Regions from separate parts of the Homo sapiens genome. Here regions 1, 3, 4 and 5 are each linked to region 2. The links come from fine-mapping of genetic effects on gene expression. A gene starts in region 2. Each other region holds a variant in brackets. All regions are shown on one strand. Distances are between the middles of the regions.

Region 1 (5,134 bases), 65 kb before region 2:
ATATGCTTTTGTAAGTCTGCTGTGCTTACCAAAGTATACTCAGCAACTAAATAGGACTTGGCAAGAGTAAGCACTCAAAGCCAGGTGCAGTGGCTCATGCCTGTAATCCCAGCACTTTGGGGAGGCTGAGGTGGGTGGATCACTAGAGCTCAGGAGTTTGAGATCTGCCTGGGCAATGTGGTGAAACCCTGTCTCTACAAAAAATACAAAAGCTAGCCAGGTGTGGTGGCAGGCACCGGTAGTCCCAGCTACTCAAGAGGCTGAGGTGGGAGGATTGCTTGAGCCAAAAGGTCAAGACTGCAGTGAGTGAGCTGAGATTGCTCCACTACACTCCAGGCTGGGCAACAGACAGAGATACGATTTCAAAGGAAAAAAAAGAGTAGACACCCAGTATCAACACCAAGATTTACTAGACCCTGTCCCTGCCCTCAAAAATCTCACAGACTAATGGGAAAGGCAGATACATTAACCACAATAACAATACAATATGGTAACTGGCACTATTGATTGGTGAGAGGAAAGACATAGGTGCTGCATGAATCCAGAAGAGGGGCCCTTAACAGCCTAGGAGTCAGGGGACTTGTAGAATAAGTATAGCTATTACGTGCCTACTATATAATTATTATTATTTTTTTATATGATTATTTTTAAGCTTTATAATAACCCTTCAAAGTAGGTATGAATATCTTCCATTTTTATACATGAAGCTTAAAAAGATTAAAAATCAGGTAACAGTAAGTGGTAGAACCAGGATTTGAACTGAAGTCAATCTACTTTTAAGTCCCCCTTCCCCTTTTTGTGTTACATCATAAGAAGTCACTAAAAGTATCTTTTATAATTGCCACCTACTATCTGTTCGACCTTAAATAAAGCACATACTTCGTGGTTTTTGTTTGACCATGGAACTAAATTACCAGTCCTAAAGCCCTATCTACCCCACTCCTTTTCCTTTACTCACGGAGGATTGAGGTTCAATCCTCTCCTATTAGTCTGTGAGTTTTTCGAGGGCAGAGAAAGGGTCTAGTAAATCTTGGTGTCTATACTGAGTGCCTATTCTTGCCTGTCAGTGGCAACCCTAGGCTTTCAGGCTATAGCATCTGAGCAATTTTTCACGGCTTGAAAATGCACTCGGGAACAACCACAATGATATCTATATAGCACTTTACAAAGCATTTTCACGCATTCATTATTTCATCTGATCCTCACCAACCCTATGAGGTGTTAAATCCCTATTCTATAGAGGCCAGTGGAAGCGAAAATGCCTAGCCTAGCTGCATCTGGTCTCTGGACTCTGCAACCCGCCAGAAATTGAATTTAAGTAAATGGAACAGGGAGGAAAGGAAGGAAGAGATCAAATGACTCAGAGAGGGAGCTCAGCATATAGTCACCCAAGTGGCCTCGAGCCAGAAGTTAACAGGGACGAAGTCTGTTTCCCTTCCAAGGTAATGAGTGTTTGTTTGGCTATGGCACAGTGACCTGCCACATGGGATTGTTCTTTTTTTCATGTCAGCAGTACCTAGAGTCTAGCCCCAAAAGTAGGCAGAAAAGAGGATATAGGAAAACTCTTTGTACACTGTATGTATACACAAACTCAGGAGATAACAGGGTATAAGAGAATAGATATCACCTTCAGAGAAGACTTAAGTTTAGGTCCTAGCTCTGCCACTGTCTTGCTAAATCAAAAGTGCCCTCTTCTGCATTATCACAGCCCCTTGTGCTTCCTTCTACAATACTTACCACATGAGCGTCCACATTCCTTGATCTGCATTTGAGAGCAACAACTGAGGCCAGTTTCAATTTTTGTATCGCCACCAACCTAGTACCATAATTAGCATAGAGTAGATGGTTCAGAAATATTTGATAATGGATGGATGCAATATTCAAAGCTCTGTGAATATTGTACATACATATATACACACACACATATATACATACACACACATACACACGATCGTACGTACC[A/G]TTGCACTCTAGCCTGAGCAAAACAGCAAGATCCTGTCTCAAGAAAAGAAAAAGAAAAAGACAGGCAATAATAGATGCTGGCAAGGATGGGGAGAAAGAGGAACCCTCATGTTGTTGACAAAAATGTAAATTAGTAGAGCCACTATGGAGAAATACACACACACACACACACACACACACACACACACACACTCCACATTCTGACAGTGAGTGCCAATAAAACAGTAATCTTGTCGTTCTCATCTCTGCTTTCCCTCTAACTCCCCCACTTTAAGGACAGTGCTCACAAAAATTCCGTTGATTAACGAAGTGGAGACAACCCACAAAATGGGAGAAAATATTTGTAAGCTATCCATCTGACAAAGGATTAATAACGAGAATATATAAGGCGCTCAAACAACTTAATAGCAAAAAAAACAAGTAATCCAATTTAAAAACTGGCAAAGATCTGAACGGACATTTTTCGTAACAAGAGATACAAATAACCAACAGGTACATGAAAAAAATGCTCAACATCACTAACATCAGAGAAATACAAATCAAAACCATAATGTGATATCATCTCACTCCAGTTAAAATGGCTTGTATCAAAAAGACAGGCAAAGGCTGGGCACGATGGCTCATGCCTGTAATCCCAACACTTTGGGAGGGCAAGGCAGGCAGATCACTTGAGCCCAGGAGTTCACAACCACTCTGGGCAACATAAGGAGACCACACTTCTAAAAAAAAAAAATTTTTTTTTTATTAGCCAGGCATGCTGACATGTGCCTGCAGTCCCAACTACTTCAGAGGTTGAGGTAGGAGACTGCTTGAGCCTAGGAGGTTGAAGCTGCAGTAGGCCATGATCGTACCATTGCACTCCAGCCTGGGCAACAGAGCAAGACCCTGTCTCAAGAAAAGAAAAAGAAAAAGACAGGCAATAACAGATGCTGGCAAGGATGGGGAGAAAGAGGAACCCTCATATGCTGTTGGTGAAAATGTAAATTAGTAGAGCCACTATGGAGAATAGCATGGAGGTTCCTCAGAAACTAAACATAGAACTATCATGATTCAGCAATTCCATTACTGAGTATATATCTAAAAGAAAGCAAATCAATATATGAAAGATATCACACTCCCATGAATCCTGTAGCACTATTCATAATAGCCAAAATGAAAATGTGTATATACACAATATATATTTGTGTATATATGTATATATACACACAACGGAATATTATTCAGCCATAAAAAAGAATAAAATCCTGTCATTTGCAGCAACATGGATGACACTGGATACCATTTTTTCAGGTAAAAAAAAAGCCAGGTACAGGAAGACAAATATCACATGTTCTCACTCATATGTAGGAGGTAAAAAAAGTAGATCTCATGATGATACAGAGTAGACTGGTGGTTACCAAAGGCCAGGAAAGGGAGTGAGGAGGATGAAGGGGGAAAAAAAGATATAAATGTACTTACTGAAACTGAACTGTACACTTAAACATGATAAACATGGTAAATTCTTTCAAAATTTTTAACTAAAAAAAAATTTGCTGAGTAGAAATCAGTTCAAAAAGCCAGTCATCAAAGGGGAAGATAATTAACCTATATAGTCCCCTTTCCCAGACTATAATCTTTCTCTTTCTACACACAAATAACCACTATCTTGTCCAGGCCACCCTCTTCTTCAAAAGAGCACTGTCTTCTCCTCCAGGCCTCCTCCTCCTCCTGTCCCTCCAACCCATCCCTGCTATCCTCCCTCTTCTTTCCTGGGCTACCTCCTTTCCTCCAGATCAGCACTATCTCACAGCTGCCAGAGTTTCTGGTCCTCCCAGTCACTCATCTCACTAAAGGGAACTTGAGCCTCTGCCCAGCACTACTTGACATTCTTGCTCTCCTCCCACTCAGGCCCCCCACTTCCCATCTTGCTTATTCCCTACTGCCTACCTGCTTGCTGCCCCACCACCACCAGCAAAGATGGGAAACAAATGCAGGAAGAGGGAGTGCTTGTTGGCAGGCCCAAGGCAAGGCACAGAGGCAGTAAAGAGAGAGAATGGTCCTGGGGAAGATAGAATTTGGAGGTAAAAGCTAGATGCAAGTGAGTTAGGTAGAAAACAATGTTTGGACCTCATAAACACAGGAAAAGGTCTCTACAAACCAGTAACCTACTAATAATAAGAAAGCTTAACCAAAAATTTTAGAAAAGAGAAGAAAGCCTAATCAAGAGGGGGAGGATCCAAGAGAGGGAAGGAAAGACTGGCTACACAGGGGGAGAAATACAAAAGGGGAAGCATGAGGGGAGGAGGAAGGGTGAAGGGGACGGCGGGAGAAAAGGTAGGCAGGGGGCAGGAAAAATGATCAGGAGGAGGAAATAGAAAGAAAAGTGAGGAGAGGAAGACGTAGAGTCATGAAAAAACTAGGGGGAGGAAAGAGGTCCAAAATAATCAAAGTAGGTTATTATCGGGCCTGACATGAGCTTCTTGGTGCCAGGTAATAAAGAAGGAAAGAATTATAGTGATTAAGATATTACCACAGCCAGGTCTGTCATTAACTTAGCAGAATAAGGAAGGGGCTCCAGAGAAGAGAGTCTAGTTTAACGCAACTTTATACCTAAGGACAGAAAAACTGGCCAGTTTAGAATCATTAACATACCTTGACCTTCTACTTCCCAACCCTACCTCCCTACACCTAACACACCTACGCATCACACTAAAATAAGCATCAGCATTCTCAGTCTCTGCTTTGTCCCTGAAGAACCACCAAGATGCCATTCAAAAGGCTGGCTGGAAGACAGGATACCAAGGTCTACTTCCCAAGTTCTCCTCTCTTCTACAGTGTTGAGGGGGACATCTCTGCAGCCCATTTTAGCACTTTAAACCAGCTCACCTCTCCAAAAGATGGTTTGACAGTCTGGAAAAGCCAGAGTAACAAACAATGTCAAGTCCTTCACTGCACAGATATGGCAACTCAAGCCACAGAGGATGTCTGAATAGGACCAGTCCCCCCAGGTCTCCTCCCTCCCAGTTCACTCAACCTCTTAACACAGAAAAGCCCCCACAGTCCCAGCAGGCCAGCGACTAAGCCAAGGCAGAGGAAAGCACCACGTTGGCCACCAAGCAGAAGGGCGCTTGCAAAGGAGCAGAGCTTCTGAGGCTGAGCGGTTCCCCAAAGGCGCAGCTTCCCCTTCACACCC
Region 2 (5,000 bases):
ATATTGAATTGAACTGAACAAGCTTTTTACCAAATGCCCTGTTATGGATGAGGCAGGTCACCTTCCCTGCAGGACTCACTTTGGCCAAGAGAAGACTTGTAAAACAGGTCCAGCAGCCTCAATTATTGCACACTACTACCTGTACAACTGGAGTCCCCCAGAGATTAGGGCAGACCTTCATTGTTTACTTGTCTACCTCACCCATTAGACTTTGAGCTCTTTGAAGACAGGGAATATCTTAATAGACTGAATCCCCATAGCCTTAGCAAGAGGCCTGAAACATAGTAGCTCTCCGAACTCCAGTAATGTTGGATAAACGAATTGACTGAATAAGCAAATTTACCAAGGTAGACCCATGAGCTCATGTAGTTAAAGAGTATGGATAAGCTTCAGGGAAAGTATGGGAAGTTTTCAGGGTCAATGTTCCCAAAACCCTTTTTGAAAGGCATAGTTTCTAGTTGAGGTGGGGAGTTTTTATATGCACCTGACTTAGAATTTTCCAAATAGGAACCAAAATGTTGTAAGTGCTGTGGTAGAAATCCCACCGGGCCAATGGGAAGAAATCAGCTCTGTCTGTAAGAGGAGAGACAGGATGGAGGCCAGCAAAGACTTCACAGTGTGGGAATTCTTCAGTGGACTCTTGAAAGCTGAGTCCGGTGCTTGCTACTTGCCCGTTTTGGGGCATAAAACCAAACTTCTGGAGCTTTTAAGGCTGGAAGTGACCTGCTCAAGGTCACACAAGAAGTAGATGAAGCCACAGGGTAAGAGAGATGAGGTATCTGTACTGATAATTCCTACTTTCTCCTGACAGAGTTGAAAGAGAACCCAAAAATGTAGGAGGCAAAATTAAAGATTGTTCTCAGGAACAATTCTTAAAGTCAAGACTAATGAATCTGAATTTTTATTAGTAACCACGGAACTAACCCTTCCCTTCACTGTTCACAGTTTTTGTAACAGTAGAACAATTATCCAAGGGGTTTAAAAACCAAGGACGTTGCTCACAACGCCACACCCACTACTTCTCAAGTATTCTTCCAAAACACTCCCAGTAATGTGTACTGCTGAAATAGGATAGCGAAGGCTACAACAATCATGTCTTTTCAAACGTAATAATGAACATAAAATAACTATAAATCTCCTTCCCCGGTTGTTTTTCACTTCCCAAGTTACAGAATATTCCGGGGTGGGGGAGGGGCTGCGTAAGTCAAGTCCTACCAGCCCTTATTTTTCAGGGAGTAGAACCCTAAAGGTGACTGTCCAAGCCTGGAAGGGGTCATTTATTCCATGCAGAAGGAACTGGGCGCCGCTTTGCTGTGCCTCCTCGTAGCGGGACAGGGTGAGCGCCGCAGGACTGCGAAGTTCGGGACGGACTCGGTCCCGGACCGGTACTCGTGTGGCCTCCCGGCTCCAGCCTGGCCTGGCCCCGCCCCGCCCCTTCCCTCTCCCAGGTCTCTCGAATCGCCCGGCGTCTGAGACCCGCGACCCCGCCGGTACGCGCACAGGGGGCCTTTGTTGGCCCGACGGGAGCGGGCCTCGCGGGGCGCCGCCCGCCTCACCTTACCTGGCGCCTCCTCCCGCCCAGGCGCCCGGCCCCGCAACGCGAAATAAATGGGCCCAGACCCCCACTCCACCCGTCCCCACCCCCGCGCCCCAGCCCTGGCAGCCCGGGACGCGAGGGGTACTGGGCGGTAGGCCCGCTCTCACCTTCCGCGCTCGCTCAGCTCCTCTCGGCTCCTCCTCCTCCTCCCGGCGGTGGGTGCCGCCTAGCCGGGAGTGAGGGCGCGAGTGTGCGCGAGCTACCGCTTCACTTTCTCCCTCCTGCCGCCGCCGCCGCGCTGCCCGTGGCGGGGCTCCCCTCAGGACAGGGGAACTGCGAGGGAAGGGATGATGGGGGGGCGGGAGGGAGCGAGGCGACGCGGGCGGGGGGGGAAGGGGGGACTGAGGGGCGAGGTGCGAAGGGCTCAGATGGCCTCTGAGGCAGGAGGTGGTAACTGGATGCGGAGACCAGGTTCCTCGAGGGGGCTCACGAAAGCGCGGGGCTCCGTGGAAAAGGGAATGAGAGTCCAAGGGGGAAGGCGTCTGTGGGGGAGGACTGCAGAGCCTGTGAGGGAAGCGCGATGGGCGAGCGAGGGGGCGGGAGCGTGTGGGGGAAGCCGTGAGGGGGCGTCTACTGTGCAGCCACCACCTTCGGCTCCGGCTGCAGCCGCGGGAGGGCAGCCTCCCCCGCCCACAGCCGCGCTATTGTACGCCGCCCGGCAGGCCTGACCGCCTAGTTCACTGGCTCCCCTACTCCTCCTCCTCCCGCCTCCTCCTCCCCTCTGCCCTTTCCCCTTCTCCCCCTCCCCCTCCCCCACTCCCCCTCCCCGGCGCGGCGGCGGCGGCTGCGGCTCCGGTGGAGCCGTGCCCGCCCCGCCTCCCGCAGGTGAGAGGGGGCGGGGAGGGCCTGACCGACCCGTGGGAGCGAGGCCAAACCCTGGCCCGCATGAGGGCGAACGCCTGGGATTACGTCATCGGCGCGTGACGCCAGAGGCTGGGGAATCACCCGCTTGCTGCGTGACGTCATCGCGTCGCGTCACTGTTCTCGGTCCGCTGTCCGTGGCGGGTTGTTTCCGTGCAGCCTTTCTATCAGACAATTTTGGGACGATTTCTGGGAGGGCTACTGTAGTAGTCAGGATGGAGAAAGACGGCTAACTTCCGGCGCTGAGGGTCCTTTTCAGGTTAACAAAGCACCACCGCATCTATGAGCTCGTTGTCAAGGGCTGAATTTGAAAACTATCCGATGTCGTGTGATCTCACAGCCAGACATGTATTATGTTTTCTTTCTGTGGGAGAGGGGGCAGGGGTGGGAGGAAGACAAAGAAATTATAACGGAGATGTTTGAACTAATGTGAACTGACATACGAAAAGAATGGGCTTCCTTTCACGTTTTTTCCCCTACCGTGGAGGGTACTTTCGACCCAAAGCTTTCTTTCTCCTGAGCTCAGATTGTGTATTTCCCAATACCTCCCGAGCAGCATTACCTGCATACTCTTCGTACCTCAGATTCAACATGTGCGAAACTGAGACAGCATTAGAAAGGCTAAGAGTCCGGAATCAGGTTGCCTTGCTTGAAATCCTAGCTATTCAAATATTAGTGATAGGACCTTGACATTTCTAAGCCGTAATTTTTCTGTAATAATAAGTAGTACCTTAACTAGGTCTTCCTAAGCCTCAGTTTTACCATGGTAATAGTAACAAGCCCTTTAGAATGTTGGCTATTATTATTATTTCCCCCCCAAAATTGCTTCTTACGTTCCTTTCCGTTCTCAATGAATGGGCCACCCATTCAACAATCCCCTAAGCCAGGAACCTAGACATACTAATAGCTCCCCGTTCTTCCTCTCTCAACATCCATATCAAGTTGGACACCAAGTCTTGTAGCTTCTCCTAAATATTTTTCAAGTCCTTGCCTGTGTCGTCTTCTACTACCACCACCTGAACAACTGGAGCAACCTTTAGTCTCTTCAAACTCAATCTATTTTTCTCACTAGTTACCTGAGTAGCCTTATAAAAGCACAAATCTGATGATGTCCTCCCGTTTAAACACCGAAAGGATTTTATTGCTTTCAGGATAAAGTTCAAACTCCTGAACTTGGCACTTTATTACCTGACTGCTTACACTAGCCTTTCTAGCTTTGTCTCACATCATTTATTTTTTGCTCCAAGCACACTGAAATATTAACGTTATTTGAATACACATTTCTTCATGTCTTCAAGCTCTTCCCTACTTAGCTGACTGGCCAACACCTATTCATTGTACAAAGCTGAGCTCAAATGTCATTCATATTCATATTCATATTCATTTGACTAATATTTCTAAAGTTTCCCTAAGCCTTAACAAAACTGTAATTCTATAGTATTTCTATGCCTTTTATGGAAGTAACTGCATTTGTGTATCTAATTTCTTGAGTTCCAAGTCATATTCCTTTCCATATCCTCAGCACCTAAAACAGTGCTTGACATATACCTAAGTATCAATATGTTGTTAAAATATATTTAATAAGGCCAGGCGCGGTGGCTCACGCCTGTAATCCCAGCACTTGGGAGGCCAAGGCAGCCAGATCACCTGAGGTCAGAAGTTTGAGACCAGCCTGGCCAATATGGCGAAACCCCATCTCTACTAAAATACAAAAATTAGCCGGGCGTAGTGGCAGGCACCTGTAATCCCAGCTACTCAGGAGGCTGAGGCAGGAGAATTGCTTAAACCCAGGAGGCGGTGGTTGTAGGAAGCTGTGATTGCACCACCACACTCCAGCCTGGGTGACAAGAGCAAAACTCTGTCTCAAAAAAAATGTATTTAATAAATGTTCCTATTGTTCTTTCTATGTGCCAGGTACTGTTCTGAGCACTTTACAAACACTGTCTTTAAACCTCTACCCTCTACGGTAGATACTGTTGTTATCCTCACCCATCTTATTGATGCGGGAACTGAGGCACAGAGGGGTTAAGTAACTTAACCCAGGATCCTAACCCAGTAAATTGACTCTAATCTGGATTGTCTTTTCGTGATCTCTGCACTAGGCAGAATAATGGCTCATCCAATGGAATGTTCACATTCCAATCCCTGGGAACTATGAATATGTTACCTTCCATGACAAAAGGACTCTGCAGATGTGAGTAAATTGAGGATTTGGGGAAAGGGACTCTCCAGCTTTTGGGAGCAGACTGGAAAATGGAAAAGGCAAGAAAATGGATCCTCCCTTGGAGCCTCTGGAAAGGAAGAGATGGTATCCTGATGATACCTTAATTTTAGCCCACTGACATCCATTTAGGACTTCTGAACTACAGAACTGTGAAATAATAAATGTGTATTGTTGGCCAGGCACAGTGGCTCACATCTGTAATCCCAGCACTTTGGGAGGCCGAGGCGGGTGTATCACCTGAGGTCAGGAGTTCAAGAGCAGCCTGGCCAACATGGTGAAACCCCATCTCTACTAAAAATACAAAATTAGCTGGGCGTG
Region 3 (5,134 bases), 43 kb after region 2:
CAGGTGCAGACTCTAAGGCTCAGAGACATTAAGCAACTCACCACTAATGAGTAGCAGAACTGGTAGAACTCAGACCATCCGAGGTTTCTCAAAAAAGATCATAGTTGAGCTGGATCCTGGAGGATACATTTGAAGGAGGAAAATATGAGAAAAGTCCTTCTAATTAGCAGCAACAGGCAAAGAGGAGGAAAAGAGCATGACATTACCTAATTGAATAGCAATAATTTTTTTAGAGAAAAGTCTTTCCAAAACATCCAACTTAGCTTTCATAGGAATAATAGCTCAACTTCTTTTTACACTCATATTTCATAGGTTTCCATTGTACATTTAATTTAATTACACCATGTGTGCCTGGCAAAAACTGGTTAGCAAACGTCACTGACTCCTGGTAAGCAGATAATTCAATTGCTGCTGAGTCAAGTCCTTTATGCCTCATTTTTCTCATTTGTGTCATGGCGGTGTTATGTGGCTTTAATGAGTTAATCTAGATAAAGAGATTTGTAAGCACTTAATAAATGTTTGGATGAGGAAGCATACAGGTGTATCTTAGCTGATATGTTTTCCCTGAAGGAATGTGGAGCATCAGTAAACCCCGTGCATGATTTGGTTACATGGAGGAACATTACCAGCTTCTCCTGTGTTACGGGATGGTTTTATTAGACAACAATGCCTTCTATGGATCATAGAAAACCTTCCCACCGAAATACTACCTTCTCATTCTCGGATTTCTTATGAAATGTGCACTTTGTCCCCAGGATACCTGACTCATTCCTTATCCAAAGGCCTTATTTGCAGGTCTGGCCTGAAGGCAGGAAGCAGCACAAAAGTAGTGTCTCCTCCTTCAACATTTGAATGACTGCCATAAAAATAAATAAATAACATCCTTTTTTTACTCCCAAAGGGGATGTTTACAACAAGTGTCTTACTCTCTCCTCAACTACAGCAAATATATGTTCAGGAGTATCAGGTTGCAAGGTATACACCAATTCCAAGAGCACTGCTGCAAGCAAAATATGCCATACTTTCTGATGTTAGAAAATTCTCCAAGTTGACTTCATTTCTCGGTTGCTGGCAGCCAATCATAAGCATCCTAGAAATGCTGCACGTCTAGTGGAAAAGTTGGAATGTAAGGCCCTCCAAGGTAATATGATGGAAAGAAGAAGGGCTTTAGAGGCAGACATGACTGGATCCAAATTCAGTCTGTGCCATTTGTTTTTAGCTGTGCAATTTGGTCAAGTCACTTAACCTCTCTAAGCCTCAGTTTCCTCAACTACACAAAGAATAATCTTTGCTGCATTAAATTCTTGAAAAGACTTAATGTGTTAAGGCAGAAATTCACCTAGTTTAGGACTGGACACACAGTGTGCATTCAATGTATGGTAGCCATTATTATTGATTATTTTTCAGTATAACTCCAGCATTGAACCTTAGGTGTAATGAAGCTATACAATGTCGTGACTAAAAGCCAGGCTACCTGGGTTTGAATTCCAGATCTTCTACTTCTGAACTGAGTAAACTTGGACAACTTTTTAAAGCTCTCTGTGCTTCATTTTCCTTCTCTAAAATAGAAAAAGTAACACAACCTATCTCAAAGGGTTGTTATCAGAGTTAAATAAGTTAGTATATGTAAAATGTTTAGAATAGTACTTAGAACATATTAAGCAGTAATGTGTCAGGTATTATATAATTACTGTATTATAACTGTCTCTTTAACTGTGAACTGTGAGATAAGGACTCTTTTGTTTCTGTATCTCCAGGGTGGTCAAGTGACTAGAGCAGATTAATAAATGTTAATTGAATAAATGAAGCATCTCACATGCCATGCTAGTCAAGACTTTCCCTAATTTAAACTAACCAATTTAAACTAACTACAAAGTCTAGGCATGGTGGTTCATGCCTGTAACCTTAGCCCTTGAGAGGCTGAGGTGAGGGGATCAGCTGAGCTCAGGAATTCAAGACCAGCCTGGGCAACATAGTGAGACCCCATCTCTCAAAAAAAAAAAAAAAAAAAAAGCTGGATGCGGTAGCACATTCCTGTAGTCCCAGTTAATTGGGAGGCTGAGACGGGAGGATTGCTGGAGCTCAGGAGTTCAAGGCTGCAGTGAGTCATGATCATGTCACCGCAGTCTAGAGTTGGTGACAGAGTGAGACCCTGTCTCAAAAAATAAAATAAAAATAAATAAACTAACTAAAGAAAAAATAAGGCAATTTATTGCTGCTCATATTTAAATAACCCAGGGATGAATCTTCCTTCAGGCATAATTAGAACCCAGGGCTCAAATAATTTAAGGAATTGTCTCTAGCATTTCTGTTTTGTTGGCTCTCTCCACACATAGGGCATTATAGCCACCAGCAACCCAAGCCTCAGAGCCAGCCACTTTAGCACTCAGTGGAAAAAGAGACTCTTCCAAAATATCTGGCCAGGAGAGAATTTTAATGTGCCCAGTTTGAGTCATGCACCCATCCTACTATTAACTTCTGTGGTCAAAGAAATGATGTAATCTGATTAGCTAGGTCTGCCCCACTGTGTAAAAAGGAAGGGGCAGCCCTATGCAAACACACAGATTTCCCCAAAGGAAATAACATTCTATTATAGGGATGAAGGGAAAGGGATGCTGAGCAGGCAAAAATGCCAGATGGCTTGACATATGCCAAAGAATGGTTGTCAAGCCCATTGGTCCTAGGTCAGCAGTCCCCAACCTTTTTGGCACCAGGGACCGGTTTCATGGAAGACGATGTTTCCACAGACCAGTGTGTGTATGTGGGGAGGGATGGTTTCAGGATGAAACCTGAAATATAATGTACAAGTGCATTATATTTATTGTGTGCTTTATTTCTATTATTATTACATTGTAATATGTAATGAAATAATTATACAACTCACCATAATGCATAATCAGTGGGAGCCCTGAGCTTGTTTTCTTGCAACTAGACAGTCCTATCTGAGGGTGATGAGAGACAGTGACAGATCATCAGGCAT[C/T]AGATTCTCATAAGGAGCACACAACCTAGATCCCTTCCTTGCCCACTTCACAATAGGGTTCACGCTCCTAAAAGAACCTAATGCCATCTGAGAGGAGGCAGAGTTCAGGCAGTAATGAGAGCAATGGGGAGGGGCTATAAATACAGATGAAGCTTCGCTCGCCTGCCACTCACCTCCTGCTGTGTGGCCTCTCTAGATTATTCCAGACAATAAAACTCTGCCCACTTTTAACAGGGCTTTTAAGAAAAACACCTTAATCTTTCTAAGTAATTATTCCAGATTTCAATAATCTCCACATAAAGTTATTCTTAAATTCAATCTAGTCTAAATTCCTTGGTATTCAAGGTATTTTTCTTCTTGTTTGTTCTGCTGTGAAATGAAAAAAATGGCTTAGCAAGTTATTTAATCTATAAATTAATTTGAATACTTTTTATGAAGGAAGGACAAATAGATATTATGAATATGGGGTCACCTGGAGAAGCATGGTGAGAAGTCAAATCTAATGGGAAAGAAAGCTGTGATCAATTAACGAAGTCTACTTGCCCCAGGTTCTAGAGAGGAGAGTGGTCACACAGTTGGCTGTGTTTGCCATCTCTGGTTTTTGTAATTCTTCATCTTAAAAACAAAAGTTGTATCTACTTACAGGGCTAAAAATTATTCCCCAGTGAATCAGCAAAGAGAGTGTAATTAGTATGTTTTTTATGCAAAAGAAGATTGCAAACCACTCGGCACTCTGCTTGGATTTGCTGAGGTGCCACCTCAGGTGTTAACAAAAATGAGATGTGTGAGAGAGAAAATCATTACACCCACCAGCAGCCCTTCCTTCCACCCTGGATCTCATCATCTGAAGTGTCATCACTGACACCAGATGTGCTTTTGTGGCATCGTGGCAGCTGACAGCTAAAGATGAGCAAGTTAGTCTGATTTGCAGTAACTTTTCCCATTTATTTTGTTCCATTGATATACATGGACCAGGCTGAATTGTCATCCAGAAGATTCTATTTTGCCTGTCTCCACACTAACTTTTTTAATACAAACAGTTTAAAATAAACAAAATTAGAATCGTATTGTTTAAATGCCCATCACTTAGATTCAACAATTATTAGAATTGTGCCATATTTGCTTCATGTATCCCTCTCCTTTTTCTATTTGAGTATTTCAAAGCAAGTCTCAGACCTCATGTTATCTCTCCCTTGATACTGCATACACAAATATTTTCTACATAACCACACTGCTACCAACACACCTAACAAAAGTAACACCTCTTTGGTATCATCGAATTCTTAGATAATTTTTATACTTTCCTGATGTTTAAATACATGTATTTTTTATGGTTAGTTCATTAGAATCAGAATCTGAACAAGGTCGTTACATTGCATTTGAAGGTTATGTCTTTTGAGTCTTAAAATCTACAACAGTATCTCCCAGCTCTACCCCACCCTTTTTTTCATGCTATTGATTTGTTGATTAAACTAGTTCAATAGTTCTATAAAATATCCCACATTCTGGATTTATCCATTTATTTATAAGTAGTGTCACTTAAACTTGAGTCTGTATCCCCTGTATTTCATGTAAACTAGAAAATTAGTCCCAAAGGCCTTATTAGATTTGGGTTCCTTTTCTTTTTTCTCCCCATAAAGGGGGCATCTCAAGAGGTACATACTGTCTGGCTGTCCCACTCTGAGTGTAGTTAACACTGATCAGTGGTTCCAGGGGTGTCAGCCGGATCTCTCTATTGTAAAGTTCTCCAGAAGCTTTTAATCTAATTCTTTCATCCCTTATTGATCTTTGCAAAATGCTGGTTTTTTTTTCCTAATTCTATCATTCCTACCACATTTTTTAGCTGGGATTCGTCTGTAAAGAACTTTTCCTTATCAGTTAGGTCTAGTTGGTCACCTGGAAATGTAGATTGCATTGGGAAGGCAGGATAATACTGTTGCAGAATTTTGCTCCTTAGTTCAGCTAATACCAGGTTCTAGACACAAGCCAGGAAAATTTAGACACATGGACACACTGAAGGGTAAATAGAGCAGGATTTCATTGGGCAAAAAGGGAGAAAAAGAAAAAAGACTCAACAAAGCAAGATGGAGTCCTGCTAACAGGCCTCTCACCTCAGGGACTGAATCCCAGGCCACCACACAGGAATTGGAAGCC
Region 4 (5,134 bases), 28 kb after region 2:
TCCAGTGATACTTTCGTTATACCTTTATTACACTTTTTGTCTTAATTAGTTGTTTACATGCCTGTCTGTCCCAACAGTCAGGGAATGTTAATTTAGAGTTGATGTGGGCCCTGGATCCATATTGCTCCCTAAGCACTGAGTTGGTTTGTGCTGACACTGCACACACACACACACATACACACACAGAGCAGTAGACTTTCCGGCATTTTGGCTTCTACAGAACAGAATGGATACAGCCTGGCTAAATGTCTCACCCTTTTGACCTTCTCTAGCACTCACCTGATAAATCCACCATCCAGCATCAGCGAACACTTCCATCTCTGCTTCTACACCTGGCTCTGAAAGTGGCTGGAAGACCTCTGAACACACGCATCTGAGATAAGCAAGCCCTGACCATAAGTGAGTGGAAGAAGTTTGCTCCCTTGGAAAATTTTGTTATAATCAGTTCATAAAAATGAAAATTCACAAACACAGAATTTGTATAGCAAAGATGAATATACATAACTCAGATTCAACTGAGAGCCCTCCTGCCCTTAAAGATCAAAATATAAACCGGGTGCGGTGGCTCACGCCTGTAATCCCAGCACTTTGGGAGGCCGAGGTGGGCGGATCACAAGGTCAGGAGTTCGAGACCAGCCTGGTTAACATGGTGAAATCCCGTCTCTACTAAAAATACAAAAATTAGCCAGGCATGGTGGTGCATGCCTGCAGTCCCAGCTACTCAGGAGGCTGAGGCAGGAGAATTGCTGGAACCCAGGCAGCGAAGGTTGCAGTGAGCCGAGATTGTGCCACTGCACCCCAGCCTGGGCAACAGAGTGAGACTCCACCTCAAAAAAAGAAAAAAAAGTCGAAACATAATTAACTGGATTCCTCCCTCCAATTCCACGTCTTGTGGAAATCCAAAGCCCTCCTCAAGATTTCCGTTCTGGCTGGGTTCAGTGGCTCACACCTGTAATCTCAGCACTTTGGGAAGCCGAGGCAGGAGGATCATTTGAGCCCCAGAGTTCAGGATCAGCCTGGGCAACACACTGAGACTTGTCTCCACACACACAAAAAAATTAGCTGGGTGTGATGATGCATGCCTGTGGTCCCAGCTATTCAGGAGGCTGAGGCAGGAGGATTGCTTGAGCTTGGGAGGTTGAGGCAGCAATGTGCTGTGTTCACACCACTGCACTCCAGTCTAGGAGACAGAGTGAGACACTGTTTCAAAAAAAAAATTCAGTTCTTTCCCAACAGACTTCTCTTACCACAGCCAGCTAGCCTCTGGGCTCCTGGCTCCCCACATGGTCCTCTGTTCTGCAGTGTGCAGATCCACATTCAAAACTTAGTCCCTCCAATTTCCACCAAAAACCCAATCCCGGGTAATTAGCCGGGCGTGGTGGCAGGCGCCTGTAGTCCCAGCTACTTGGAAGGCTGAGGCAGGAGAATCGCTTGAACCCAGGAGGCGGAGGTTGCAGTGAGCTAAGATCCCACCACTGCACTCCAGCCTGGGTGACAGAGCGAGACTCCGTCTCAAAAAAAAAAACAAAAAACAAAAAACAAAAAACAACCCACTCCCATAGAGCAGTTTTGAAGTTAGTAGAATTTGCTGGCAATGTGGAGGATGAAGGGGAAATCCAGGAGAGTTTCACATCCATAGCAAAGCAAACAATTCAAAATGGAAGGACCACTATCTGCCAGAGGGGAGCTTCCCCGGCCCTTCACTCCACCCGGACTCAGTCTCTCCACTGACTCCTCTCTTCTTCATCCTTCTCTCTTCTCTCTACTCCCTGTGGTGGCATCTTTTCTCTGTGCCTGCTGAGCATTCACTGAATTCGACCCCTCTTCTCGGGTAATAAGCAACAGCTTTCCCTTGGGGAACCACCCTTACCCCTTCTCTCAAATGGCTTGAGCAGGGCTGATCCCACCCTGTTCCAGTGATCCATACAAGTGACCAGTCAGTGCATCCCACCTCTCTGGTCACACTGATGCTCAGGGACAGGCTTGTGGGAATGTTTGGTGAGTGAAAGACTCTTGCCCCCAGGGTCTCTGATAGGAAGATCAGTATTGCTCCTGGTGTCTTTGCCACCCCATGTGAAGGCCTGCTTGAGAATGAATCAAGATAAAGAAAAACAAGAGTCAAGACATGAAGAGAGAGCTCAAATATGGATGGGAAAGCTCCAGTCCCTGAATCCAAACGTTTCTAACTGGATACCTGGGTTTTCTTTGGTCTAGCTAGATAGAGTTAAATTTTTGTCATTTGCAATTGTGAGCACCCTGACCAATATCTTCCTCCTTCTGCTTCCTTTTCAGAAGCAATAAACCAAATTCCTCTTTGCTTCATGCAAAGCAGCTTCCCCTTCTCTGAGCTGGGAATCTGCTGACACCTGTGCCTGCTGGGCATTTAAATGTTTTCACCAAGATAGTTTTCTCCTTATGACATATATTGGCGCCAAAGATTAAGATGACCTTTTTATTCCCAACTTGTCACAAAAATATTTATATAATTGAGACTATACTGTAAATACAGTTTTGTATCCTGCTTTTGTGTGCGTGTATGTGCATGTGTATGTGTTTTTTTCTTTTTAAAGTTTTCTTAATTTTTCAGTTTTTGATCAACAAATATTTATCCAGGAACTACATATATGTCAGCCATATACAAGAGCAACTAACATACTATGTTGGAAATTTTCCCATGTCATTAAAGACTTCATAAATGTCTATTATTTTCAACCAGCACAGAATATACAATCACACAGTTTTAAAACTAAACGTTTATTGT[T/G]AAAACATTTAGTTTTATTTCCAAGTTTTATGAATAATGATAGACACATAATGTGTCTAAATCTTTCATCATTTCCTTAGGATAGATTCTCAGAAGTAGAATTCCCAGAGGAACTTCTTATTTTACCCCTCCCTGCAAAAATGCAGAAAGAAATTTACCAGACACCACTGTAGTAGTGTCAGTCTTCTCTAACCCCACATAGCTGGAAGAGACCTGCCCTGAAGTGTCTTCAGATGGCAGAAGCATCAGGCTTCTTCGCAGGAGCTTCCTGTTCCCTCTGAGTGCCCTGCCTCAGCTGCCCTCAAGGAGCTATGAACTCGCCAGCAGCTGTCCCACTCCACCAAGCAGTGGGCACTCTGTCAACCCCACAGACCTCGCAAGCTGGCATGGTGCACATATCTGCTTGTAAGGACTGTATGAAAAGAATGGCATTCAGGGCAAGCCCAAAAAGGAGAGATGCCAAGACAAGAAAGTCAGGGCTAATTGTGACCAAATTTTCTTTTCAAGCCTCTTTTCTTTTTACTTTTCTTTATTTTCCTTAATAAGCACGTGTGATTTATAATGGAAAAAAATTAACTTATGGAGGAAAACAATAACAACATGAATTTCTCAAATTTGATGTGAGGTTGGAGATGATCTTCGGGTTCCTGGGAAAGCAGCTGTGAGTTATCTGGCTTGGCAATGCCTCCTGCAAATCACTGGCTGACTCTGAAAAATGCATCTGTACTTTAGTCACCAGAAGGAAGGGCTGATTCCCTCTGGGGCCACCACAAAGGGCAATCGATGACTATCTTCCAGACCTGGAAGAGGGTTCCAAACTGCAATGTGTAAAACCAAGGAGTGGGTCTAAGGCCAATCAGTGGGAGCCTCCGAGAGACAGATCTTTGACTCACTGCCAGAACTTCTTAGCAAACAGAGTAGTGCAAAGATAAAACCAGCTGCTCCAGGAGGTGGTGGCCTCCCCATCCTATGCAGCATTAAAGCATATGCTGAGGCCAATTGCCCTGGATGGGTTGGTGGCGGTTCAAGTGCAAGGCAAGACAGCAGTTCTCAAACTGTTTGGTCTCAGGACCTTTTTACACTTTTAAAAATTATTGAGAACCCCAAAGAATGTTGTTTATGTGGGTTATCTCTATCAATATTAGCCATATTAGAAATTGAAATTGGAAGTTATAAAGTATTAGGTCAGGCATGGTAGCTCATGCCTGTAATTCCAACACTTTGGGAGGCCAAGATGGGAGGATTGCTTAAGCCCTGGAGTTCAAGACCAACCTGGCCAACAAAATGAGATTCCACCTCTATAAAAAAAGTTTAAAAATTTTCTGGGTGTGGTGGCACATGCCTGTGGTCCCAGCTACTCTGGAGGAACACTTGAGCCCAGAAAGTCGAGGTTGCAGTGAGCCATGATCGCACCACTCAACTCCAGTCTAGGCAACAGAGCAAGACCTTGTCTCAAAAATAAATTAATTAGTAATAAAATAAAGTATTTATGAATCTTTTTTTTGTTTTGAGATGGAGTCTCCTCTCTCTCCAGCCCAGGCTGGAGTGCAGTGGCGCGATCTCAACTCATTGCAGTCTCTGCCTCCCATGTTCAAGAAATTCTCCTGCCTCAGCCTCCCAAGTAGCGGGGATTATAGTCACCCACCACCACACTCAGTTAATTTTTGTATTTTTAATAGAGACAGCGGTTTTACCATGTTGGCCAGGCTGGTCTCAAACTCCTGACCTCAAGTGATCTGCCCGCCTCAGCCTTTCAAAGTGCTGGGATTATAGGCGTGAGCCACTGCACCCGGCCCCTATTAATTTATTTTAAAACAACCTTAATAAATTATTAGTTTGTTAATATAAATAGCACATTTCCATGAAAAATAACTACACTTTCTAAAGCAAAAAAAAAAAAATAGTGAAAGGAGTAGCATTCCTTATATTTTTGTAATCTCTTTACTACCTAGATTAATGGAACACAGCTGGATTCTTATATTTGCTTCTACATTCAATCTGTTTCAGTGTGTTCTTTGGGTTGAAGTATAATGAAAAAAATCTTATGTGTGGCTAGAAAAGGCAGGAGTATTCTAATTGCTTTTTTCTGATAAGTTTGAATATTCTTCTTTGACACCACATTAAAACTTGACGAGTGGGAGTTTCTCAAAGGTTGTTGCAATGTGGAATCTGAAATCATATCAATGAGCTTTTCATACTGCATATACTTGTGTGAGAATGAGACTGAAAAAGACAAATAATACCTTAGTATTATTATGAAAGTGGGTTTAACTTTATGGACACCTGAAAGAGGTTTTGGGGATCTCTTGTGTTCTTATACCATACTTAAGGATTGCTGAGGTAGGGACTTGAAATAGAAGACTGTTCAGTCAT
Region 5 (5,134 bases), 25 kb before region 2:
AAAACACATTTACTTATGTTCCCTCCCAAAATCACTCTAAAATGATGGTAAAGCTATAAAAGAGGTATGAACCTCAACAATAAAGAGAATGGGTGAGGGGACATCAGACGGTAAGAGATTTCAAAAACTGTTTAGAATAATAGTGAATAGGGGAGCTGTGACAAAAAGAAAAAAAAAAAACAAAAAAGGAGAGCAAAAGAAGCTGTAATCTAGAGCCTTGCATAGTCCCTGAGCAGCAAAGATGTGTGGTCCCTGTACAACAGGATCCCTTCACCTGGAAAGAATCACTGGATTAAAACACATAAAGACATAGGAAGTATAAATCATTTACCCAAAACCACACAGAGATAAGAAGAGCTAGATCCTATTTTTGTTACCTTTCTATAACACATCCGCTATTAGCCAACTTAAAAGAATATAGGATGAATCAGCAGCCCATGCCACAAAACAAGGAGGCAGAGGTGTTTCCCAGGGTCTACATTTTGGCCTTCTTTACCAACTCCAAAAAGGTCCTTTGTGTTTGGGCTCTCCCTGGTGAGAACCTGTTCAAATAGTTGGGATAAGAATCCCATTATTCCCATTGTCTGATTCTATAGCTCTGAAAGGTAGGTTACCAGCACCTAACAAAAATAGGACAAAACTTGGAGGCGAAAGATTTCATAAGCACTAACACTGTTTCAAGTCAAAGCTGAGCTCATCTATCTTGCCCGTGGTAGTGTGAGAGAAGCAGCTTTTCATCCCTTTTTAGAACAGAACATGTCCAAAGGTAGGTGTTGTTATATCTGCTAACAAGATGAAACAGATTCTTTTTTTTTTTTTCAGGGGAAGTCTCGCGCTCAGGCTGGAGTGCAGTGGCACGATCTCAGCTCACTGCAACCTCCACCTCCCGGGTTCAAGCGATTCTCCTGCCTCAGCCTCCCAAGTAGCTGGGATTACAGGCGCCCACCACCACGCCCAGCTAATTTTTGTATTTTTAGTAGAGACGGGGGTTTCATCATGTTGGCCGGACTGGTCTCAAACTCCTGATCTCAGGTGATCCGCCCACCTCAGCCTCCCAAAGTGCTGGGATTACAGGCGTGAGCCACCATGCCCAGCCAAAATAGATTCATTTTAAAATGCCAAATTACAGAATTGCCTACAGTTGCAATTAAGGCATTAATAACTCTAGGGCTATTTCTTAATACACAATTATGAGAGTACCACAGCTATTTGCTCCTCATTCCACCACACTCCCATTTGAACTCTAGTCCATCACTGCATTAAACACATCTACATACTCAATTTGTGTGTTTTTGATGTGCACAGAAAGAATACTGAATTAGGAGTCAGAAGAATAGTTCCAAACACAACTCAAGCTTTGGAATCAGCAAGCTTGGGTTTGAATCCCAATTCTGTCTGAGTTACCAGCTGTGAGATCAGAAATTAATCATTTAATCTCTCTGGACCTCAATTACCTCATATGTAAAATGGGAGACTCATATGGGAAAAAATGGAAAAATATGTCAGAGACCTGTTGTGAGGATTGGGAATATTTATTAGGCAACTTGCACAGCAGTAAGTTACTCAATGCGTGGTACTTTCCTCTTTTATTGACCACCTGGTATTTGCTACGTATTTCTAACCTTGGAAGGGTTGTTTTGAAGAAGTGTTTAAGGAGAGGTAGAATATACAAATTACATTAATTACAATACAGTACAACACAAAATATAACACAGTACAAATATAATATAAGAAATGATGTCATAGCCATTACAACAGAGTAACACATAAACACTGAAGGAAGAAATACTAATTCTGCCTGGCACAGGAGGACAATGTCAGAGAAGGCATCAGAGACAGATATTTGAACTTGGTCTTGAAGGTTGTTGAGTGTAAGGACAGCAAGCAAAGGAAAACATGTTAAACAAACAAAATGCTATGAGACCCAAGTTAAGGGAACATGAGAAAGAATGTTTGGCTTATTTCAGCAATAGTGTGAAAACTTACAAAGAAGTGATAGGTTATACAGAACCAGAAATAAGATTAGCATGAGGAAGGGACTACCCATGGGAAGTTTTTTGTGGAAAGCAAAGTGGTATAATAGGCAAAAAGAGGTAGTCATTTGAGAAACTCTTGAAACTATTTAGCTGGAGAAGAACAGTAATAAAATCACTATTGTGATTATAAAGAATTGTCATGTGGAGGAAAGGTTGAATTCATTTTGTCTGACCCAAGGGACAGATTTAAGAAGGTGGATAGAAATTAAAAAATGATATTATACAAAAATGGCTAAGGAATATTAATGATATACAGGGTGAGTGTTTGAAATTTAAAAGAAAATGTCCCTCCTGTACGTTTTGAAATTAACCCAGAAAGCTCGAAAGAGAAACTCCTTCAATCTTAGCCTGGGCTAAGAACCCCAGGCTTTCTCTTCCTCTTTGGGGACAAGACTTGACTTGATGGGCCTTTGGTGCAACCAGGTTTGAGGAAGGTGCTTCCACCACTTCCTGAGGCCTTACACAATTCA[A/G]TTCAACCTCAAAAGGGAACACTAGCCCACACAGAAACAGCTTAAAAAGAAAACTAAAGAAGGCAACGACTTTAAAGGAAACTAGGCAGTGCGCTTAAAGAGAAAAGGGCAATGGGAACAACATGAACATCAGAGGCATCAACTATCTGTTCTCATGTTAATGAAGGAAGGAAGAGCAGCAAGACCATTCAGTTCAACATCTCACTGTACACATAGAGAAACTGAAGCCCAGAAAGGGGATAGGGCAGGTAAAGCCAGGCATGAAAACAACTTAACATAAAACGTTAGAGTTCAGGCAGACTCTTTTATCATCTCACTTTTCCTCAAAATAACACAGTGAAGGAGGTGTTATTTTCCCAATGAGACACGAAGATCTTTAAAGCATTACAATGTTTGTGTTAGTTTTCCTTATGGGTTGCTGGAATGAATAATGCTTTCCTTTTCAATCCTATAGGTAAAAAAAAAAAAAAAAAAAAAATCACCCTAAGGACTGGAGCTTCTCCAGGGAAATAATGTGGACTAGGAAACAGTTTCTCAATACCCTCACCCCAATTCCCCTATTCTATCTAGGACTTTCCAATGTATTACATATTCAATTTTTTAAAAATTCTGTTTTAGCCCCTGTGCTGAGAACAGGGAGCAAAAATTCAATCAGACATGCATCTTCAAGGAGCTTCCCATTCTGAAAGCATAGACAAGCATGACAATCAATGATTATCTTTTAGTCATGAAGACTTGGTTTCAAATCCTGGGTCTGCCCTTTACTAGCTAAGGCAAGTCATTTCCTTTCATCTAAACTTCAGACTCCTTTTCTGCGAAATTGAAGGCAATACCCTCAGTCTAACTCAAAGTATTAACTTGTGAGTATTTGGAAAGATAATTATTTAAAGCACCCAGCAGAATGTCTGATCCACAGTATATATGCTCAGAAGGTATTTACTGAATTAATGGCTTACATAAAAGTATCAATTCTAGGGGTAGAGTTGGGAAGAAAGAACATCCCAGCATTATGTTTTCTCATAACCCTGGACCCACTGAGAGAATGATGTTTACCTGATCATGTGGGTTTCATGCTCCCCAACTCTTGTGCATTAAAGCCACAAATACCACCCCAGCATTAAAAACCCGAAAGAACCTGGCAGGTCCCACACAATGACTAGGGATGAAGGAAATAGCTGTCTGGCCTGACCATATTTGCAAAGGGAAGTAGGCAGCAGAGCAAGGCCTAAAAAACCCAAGACCTGAAATCCTGCAAATCCTTATGATTAAAGACTAGAAAATCCTTGTTAAATACAAATATCTCTGCAAGGTGAAGCTGGGGTGAAGAATTAGGAGCCATTAGGGATTTATGGAACTCTATGGGCCACAGAAGTTCTCCACTTTAGATAGATATTATTTCAAAAAAATACATTGGCATATCTACTGTGGGTCAGGTGTTGAAACAGCAGAGGACTTAGACATGGTTCCAGTTTTTGAGACACTTAGAATAACAGAGACAGAGATCACAATGAAAAATGGTTTCACCACTAAGGTCCTGACATACTGCTATTCAGTGGGCTGCAACTGCCTGCAGAAGTGACCCAAGTTTCCCAGTTACCAAGTTTCCTCCTCCTCTTTTTCAATCCATTTACCACAAAACCTGCCATCTCTAGAGGCCCTTCTCTGGGCAGAAGAGCTTGCCTATGTGCCACAGGAGTTTAGAATGGAAATCTGACTAACAGCAAAGCTCATACCTTACACCACCTATAGCCTCTGGAATCAAACTCCACAAAACACTTTAAAACCACAGAACAAGAAGTTCTGATGTATTTATTTTAAGACTTTAGGGAAACCATTTGAGAAGACAGAACTAAGTCTTCTGAGAATATCTCAAACATTTACTGACTACCTATTATGTTCCAGCCACCACTTTGATTCTTTATAATGGGGTTCAAGACATGCTACCCCAAAATATGACATCTTAGCATATGAGAAAACAGCAGACGCAAGAAAGTATTCTCACTCTCAGCTTCCCCTCACCCTTCTCCCCTGAAGCAGGTAATCAGATCCTCATTCAAGAGGTACCCTCCTTATTCCCAGAGGAAAGCCTCATTTTTCTCTGAAGACACAGGGACATACAGAAAAATCTGAACAAACCAGCCTTGCTAAGTTCCCTCCAACCCTGATCCTATTACCATTACATCATACCGCCTTTGTCCAATCATATTTCTCCAAGACTACCCACTTCTTCCATCAAACCTAAACATAAAAATACACAAGTTTGCCTGTTTCTTTGCATCCTCATTTCCTTATGAAGGCTCCTATGTCATGTAAAACTTGTATTAAATATATTTGCTTGCTTTTCTCTCGTTAATGTCTTTTGTTTTTTTTTGTTTTTTTTTTGAGACGGCGTCTTGCTCTGTCGCCCAGGCTGGAGTGCAGTGGCACGATTTCTGCTCACTGCAAGCTCCGCCTCCTGGGTTCATGCCATTCTCCTGCCTCAGCCTCCCGAGTAGCTGGGACTACAGGCGCCACCACCACGCCCGGCTAATTTTTTGTATTTTTAGTAGAGACGGGGTTTCACCATTTTGGTCAGGCTGTCTCGAACTCCTGACCTCAGGTGATCCGCCTGCCTCGGCCTCCCAAAGT

Alleles and levels. Alleles are on the strand shown, and positions count from the first base shown. SD is a standard deviation of normalised expression in the study named. Not every link is listed here.
For the expression in cerebellar hemisphere of the gene that starts at base 2,247 in region 2, T is the low allele of the variant in region 3 and C is the other (small effect, 0.34 SD a copy in GTEx).

What was found.
Region 1: its variant is fine-mapped to the expression of PAK1 in whole blood (TOPMed, PIP above 0.99). The same link has a PIP of 0.9 or more in monocytes.
Region 3: its variant is fine-mapped to the expression of PAK1 in cerebellar hemisphere (GTEx, PIP above 0.99). The same link has a PIP of 0.9 or more in cerebellum.
Region 4: its variant is fine-mapped to the expression of PAK1 in monocytes (TOPMed, PIP 0.98).
Region 5: its variant is fine-mapped to the expression of PAK1 in whole blood (INTERVAL, PIP above 0.99).

What each region holds. Positions count from the first base shown.
Region 1 is chr11:77,406,417-77,411,550 of GRCh38, forward strand. The region is part of intron 1 of PAK1 (p21 (RAC1) activated kinase 1); the gene reads right to left. Among named protein-coding and RNA genes, the nearest start is that of PAK1, 65 kb to the right of the region's middle. RefSeq lists an enhancer at 5,103-5,134. The variant A/G (reference allele first, on the strand shown) is at 1,963.
Region 2 is chr11:77,471,848-77,476,847 of GRCh38, forward strand. PAK1 (p21 (RAC1) activated kinase 1) reads right to left here and starts at 2,247. Exons shown (of 15, transcript NM_002576.5): 1 at 1,705-2,247. RefSeq lists an enhancer at 1,355-2,271 and silencers at 1,512-1,821, 1,842-1,891, 2,122-2,481.
Region 3 is chr11:77,514,847-77,519,980 of GRCh38, forward strand. It overlaps a transcript of PAK1 not described here. Among named protein-coding and RNA genes, the nearest start is that of PAK1, 43 kb to the left of the region's middle. The variant C/T (reference allele first, on the strand shown) is at 2,981.
Region 4 is chr11:77,499,637-77,504,770 of GRCh38, forward strand. It overlaps a transcript of PAK1 not described here. Among named protein-coding and RNA genes, the nearest start is that of PAK1, 28 kb to the left of the region's middle. The variant T/G (reference allele first, on the strand shown) is at 2,762.
Region 5 is chr11:77,446,730-77,451,863 of GRCh38, forward strand. All of the region lies in intron 1 of PAK1 (p21 (RAC1) activated kinase 1), which reads right to left. Among named protein-coding and RNA genes, the nearest start is that of PAK1, 25 kb to the right of the region's middle. RefSeq lists enhancers at 1,986-2,756, 2,336-2,765. The variant A/G (reference allele first, on the strand shown) is at 2,507.